Regions from separate parts of the Homo sapiens genome. Here region 2 is linked to region 1. A link means that fine-mapping ties the variant in region 1 to the expression of a gene that starts in the linked region. Tissue or cell type: cerebral cortex. Region 1 holds a variant in brackets; the other region holds the start of a gene. All regions are shown on one strand. Distances are from middle to middle.

Region 1 (2,684 bases):
ACCTTCTATAATTTACTCACTTTTCCATCCATTCATGACATATCAGTGGGTGCCCATTTTGTGGCTCTAGGAGAAAAGATGTCACAGGCTCCTGTGGTTGTACTTTGGGGAAAGATGAAGCCATGACTCTTTATTACTGTCATACTCAAAGCACTTAGGATAATGTGTGGGAACAGAGGAGACATCCAAAAAACATTTATATGAATTAAGAATTTTATTTTAGAAGTGCGGACGACATGTTGACTTATCAGCTATGCCTTCAAAAAGCCTGCACTTCACCACTTGCCCCAGATGGCTGTTTCACCTGTTCTGCTTTTCCAGGAAGGTGTGTAAATGGCATGGCAGGAGGTGAAGCTCACCTGTCTGCAGTAGCCATCCTGGGACTGGGGCGAGGTGTTTTACAATGTGACGCCCTGCTCGCACACGGGTGGTGTTCTAGTGCAGTGGTCCCCAACCCTTCTAGCACCAGGGACCAGTTTTGTGGAAGACACTTTTTCCATGGAATGGGGTTGAGGGGGTGGTTTGGGGATGATTCAAGCTTATTACATTTATTATGCACTTTATTTCTATTATTATTACGTTGTAATATATAATGAAATAATTATACAACTCATAATATGTAGAATCAGCGGGAGCCCTGAGCTTGTTTTCCTGTAACTAGACGGTCCCATCTGGGGGTGATGGGAAGCAGTGACAGATCACCAGGCCTTAGGTTCTCGTAAGGAACATGCAACCTAGATCCCTCGCATGCACAGTTCACATTAGGGTTCAAACTCTTGTGAGAATCTAGTGCTTCTTCTGATCTGACAGGAGTTGGAGCTCTGGCAGTAATGTAAGCAATGAGGAGTGGCTGTAAATACAGATGAAGCTTCACTCACCTCCTGCTGTGTGGCCCAGTTCCTAACAGGCCACGGACAGGTATCGGTCTGTGGCCCGGGGGTTTGGGACCCCTGTTCTAGTGGATTGCACGCTTGCGTGCCAGGAGGCGGGAAAATTAACTCTTCTTATGTTTATGTAAATCCCCATAGTCCCGAGAATTAGACTGGGGGTCATCCAAGTAGAAGAGACGCTAGGGACGCAAAACCTTCTGCTACACTCCTCAAGCCCACCTCCACTGACCTCACGGATGTTTATTTCTGCCCCACCATGATCAATATTTGCTTTGAATCCCCGCAGCAACTTACATGAAATCTGGGCTCTTCACATCCTGGCACAGGCTCTCTCTCTCTCTCATGTGCCTGATAAGTCCTATACCTCCAGTGACATTTTAAACTTCCCCAAGGCAGAATCTGCTATTTTCATGCTTTTACGTCTTTTGTCTACAAAGGATACTTTGAAAAGATCAAGAATTTAATAAACTTTCATTAAATAAGTGAACACATCCAGAAGAAAAATTTATAGTGAGTGTTTTTTTT[G/TG]TTTGTTTGTTTTGCTGGACAAATCTTGGTCCCTGGTTAAGGAAATTCCATTTGTACGAGACTATAAATGTGTTTTTAGTCCCTTAATGTTTTTTATTAGATGTCTTTATGTCTTAGATACTGCAAATAAGTATGCTGTGCTGTGATAGATATCTGGCCCTCAACATCAGACTTCTGATTGTACCACATACTCCCTCTACATGTTCATGTTTTTGGTATATAATTCTGACAAGGCATCTCAAAGGAAACTCACCAGCCACCAGGCAGAGGGGCACCTGGCAGCAGGGCCGCTGTTACCTGGCGTGCCATACGTCAGTGGTTACTTCCTGGGATGCACTGCGTTGCCGGTGCTGTGTGAGGGTGAACTTCCATCTTTTATTTGTTTCCCTAATCATGTGCTTTACGTGTCTTCTGAAGGATGTCCTCTGCTACCATCTGAGAAACAAAGGCATTGTGTAGGCAGCAGACTAATGGATGCTGACCGGGCCATGCAATTAAAGACCCCAGAAATCATGTAATCTCCCGGTGGATCTCAGCTCCCTCCACACCAGGAGGGGCTCCTGCGGCTATTGGTCGGTCCAGAAGGACTGCTGCCAAAGGCCTGATCTTCTGACTGTCAACAGCTGGCTTGCTTGCAGAAGAAGTGGTGTAATGCCAGTGAAGGCAAACACAAAGCTGCAATTTTAACCAACTGAGAAATGGAGGTGGAATCCCACAGTATGCCTCTCTTCTGCCTCTCTCCTTCCTCTGAAGGTTGTTCTTTCATTCGCTTGTTTCATTTGTCTTTCACTGCCCAAGACGGCACCTGACACTTAGCAGGCTCGTAATTAATGTTTCTTGAGTGGCTGGGTGGCTGAATGTGTGGATGGCTGGGTGGGTGGACAGATATGTACACAGATACTATACTTATGAAATAGTAATAATCACAAATTGAGTAGGACATGGTATCATGTAATATATATCAGTATAACTATAAAACTATCAATATAATTATTGTAATTATTTTGAGGCATTCATAAAGCTATGATCAAAATCCCTGTGTAGGCTTGGCGTGATGGCTCATGCCTATAATCCCAGCACTTTGGAAAACCGAGGGTGTTGGATCACTTGAGGTCAGGAGTTGGAGGTCAGCCTCGCCAACATGGTGAAACCCCATCTCTACTAAAAATACAAAAATTAGCTGAGCATGGTGGTATGTGCCTGTAGTCCTAGCTACTCAGGAGGCTGAGGCAAGAGAATTGCTTGAACCCAGGAGGCGGAGGTTGCAGT
Region 2 (2,684 bases), 360 kb after region 1:
GACAAGTTAAGGCTGAGGTATCTATTTAAACATTCAGTAGGCTGAAGGATCATTCAGTCCTAATTGTTTACTAAACAAATAATAAGTACCTATATTGCCAGGCACTACGGTAGGACCTAGTCTGAAGAAAGGAACACAGTTCTATGAGACTATGAAACCAAAGATTTACCCACGACTTGGTCAGCTGCCCCAGGAGCCAGAAAATACAGCCTAGCTGAGATCTGAAGAAGGAAGGGAAAACTGCAGGATAAAGAAGAGCATTTGAAAAGGCTTCTACGGTAGAACGCGGCAAGAGCCTTCAAGAAACTGAGGGCCCAAGTGAGTGCCGCCCGCAGAGTGAAGAGGAGGACAGCTGCTGCCCCGAGGGGAGAGGGCCCCCTCTGCGAGCCCGGGGTGGCCGATTCAGGATCTGAGGCTTCAGCCTGAGAACTAAAGAGGACGAGAAGAACACACCTGTTGTGGCGGGCTTTTTCGGGGAGGACGCGGGTTGGGAGATTAACTGGACCGGACTAGACCTTTAAAAAATAACTACTATGGCTGCAGTGTGTTAAAGACCGAGGAGAAACCTGAGAAAGAACTTATCTCCAGTTTCTCCTCACAGACCCTCAGGGTCAGGGAAGACCCTACACTATTTTTACACAGCCTGGGCTTGCCAAAAAGTTTTTCTCAGGTATAAACCAACTAGGGGAGCGTGTCCTTCTCACCTCGTCAATGACCTCGTCCTCTTCATCCTTTTCCTTGTCACTGTCATCATCGTCTTCATCCTCATTTTCGACTTCTTTTTCCTCTTCCTCGTCGCGCTGGACTGGGGGATCCGGCGGCTGCGGAACCCCACTTTCCACGGCACGCCGCTTAGACCTGGACGCCATGTTGCCGCTCACACTGCGCCTGCGCAGCTTCCCCTTGCCTGACCTTCCGGACCAGCCCATAGTAGCCAAGGGGGTGAGGAACTACGAAGAAGCTCGGCGCTGAGTGCACGTCAACCCCAATGCCCCTGCTGGATTCCGCAGCCATGACCCCTTACAGTCACGTCCAGCTTGCGGTCCCATCTTGCTTTTTTCTTCCGCTTTCCACCCTCCATCACTCCTCCCAAAGCTTCCCCTCCCCTTCCCGTAGTGGTTCAACCCATCTAACCTCTGGCCTCATTCCGTGGCCTGGATGGCGGTGCGCATGCGCGAGCGCCTAGCTGCGCGCAGCCACCCACGCGACCCCAGTCTGAGGTGCGGGGTCCTGGGGCCCGGCGCGGGTGGCCGCCGCGGCCCCTCGGGCTGCGTGGGGAGGGGGCTTCCGCCCCTGTTGTCATTGCTCCTGCAGCCTTTTCGCTGGGACTGCGCGACACCGCCCCCCGACCGGGTGCCCGCTGTGTGCCAGGCCGGGTGCTGGGCACGGTCCCGCGAGGTAGGTGTCGCCGCCCGCTGTACCGGTACGGACGCCGAAGCCCGCGGGCGTGCAGGGGCCCGGCCCCGGGCGGTGTGTGACACAGTGGGGCCAGGGCCCCGAGGCTTCCGCGGACCTGGGCCTGCCCAGGCGGGGATGTCCGCTGCCGCTACCGCTGCGCCGGTGACGGAAGGCGCCTGCCCAGCCTACCCTCGCCGAGCTTCTGGAGCGCATTTCTTGACCTAAAAGTTTTTTTAAAGCCGGCACCGCAGTTAAAAATGCTTCGGCGGGGGGCCGGGCCCGGTGTCTCGCGCCTGTAATCCCAGCACTTAGGGAGGTCAAAGCGGGTGGATCACCAGAGGTCAGGAGTTCGAGACCAGCCTGGCCAACATGGCAAAACCTCATCTCTGCTAAAAGTACAAAAATTAGCCGGGCGTGGTGGCGGACACCTGTAATCCCAGCACTTTGGGAGGCCGAGATGGGTGGATCACTTGAGGTCAGGAGTTCGAGACCAGCCTGCCCAACATGGCGAAATCCCATCTCTACTAAAAATACAAAAACTAGCCAGGTGTGGTGGTGCGCGCCTGTAGTCCCAGCTACTCAGGAGGCTAAGGCAGGAGAATCGCATGCCCCCAGGAGACGGAGGTTGCAGTGAGCCGAGATCGCGCCACCGCACTCCACACTCCAGCCTGGGCGACAGAGGTAGACCCTATCTAAAAAAAAAAAAAAATGCTTCGGGGCCAGTGGGGTAGTCTAGGTTAAAGACCCGAGCCTATTTGGAGAGAAGAGTGGAGGGGACTGCGGCCAACTGCAGAGCGAGCGCCAGCCCCTGTGGCAGGTGGGGATGCAGCCTGGGGCAGCCAGGTCTTCCCATTGCGAGAGAAACAGGGTTCATCAGCTTTCTAGGAATAAGATCTGCGGTTCTCAATTGATTTTTCTCTGTAAAATGAGGGGGGTGGGTTGGATATGTTTGATTCTAGGAATGGTGTGAGCTGCGCTAATAGGCTGCTTCTGTTTAAGCAGGGTAACATCTGATAAATCAGTGATCCTTCATCAGTACGAGATGGCGTGCCCTAAAGGTCCCCAGGAGCCCAGATTGCCCATAATCGTGTTCTGTGATTTCGGTCTTTCCTGGGAGTCTCTTGTCTACCCAGCCATGTCATGGATATTAAAGTAATACTTACACATCAGCGCTCCACATCTGATGGGGCAGCTTGAAATGGCCTCTTTGGGTCGCACAACTGCAAAAACATGTTCCTGTAATGGAGAAGAGAGGAAGCTGTCAAAAAAGACCCATCAAAAGGCTA

What was found. PIP is the estimated chance that this variant, and not a neighbour inherited with it, causes the effect.
Region 2: it holds the start of UROS, and the variant in region 1 is fine-mapped to the expression of UROS in cerebral cortex (GTEx, PIP 0.97).

What each region holds. Positions count from the first base shown.
Region 1 is chr10:126,181,146-126,183,829 of GRCh38, reverse strand. All of the region lies in intron 3 of ADAM12 (ADAM metallopeptidase domain 12), which reads left to right. Among named protein-coding and RNA genes, the nearest start is that of ADAM12, 210 kb to the left of the region's middle. The variant G/TG (reference allele first, on the strand shown) is at 1,416.
Region 2 is chr10:125,821,743-125,824,426 of GRCh38, reverse strand. It overlaps UROS (uroporphyrinogen III synthase), which reads left to right and starts at 1,169. Exons shown (of 10, transcript NM_000375.3): 1 at 1,169-1,398. It overlaps BCCIP (BRCA2 and CDKN1A interacting protein), which reads right to left and starts at 881. Exons shown (of 7, transcript NM_078468.3): 1 at 705-881. The coding sequence starts at 869. RefSeq lists silencers at 117-336, 1,093-1,522 and enhancers at 813-1,012, 556-1,241.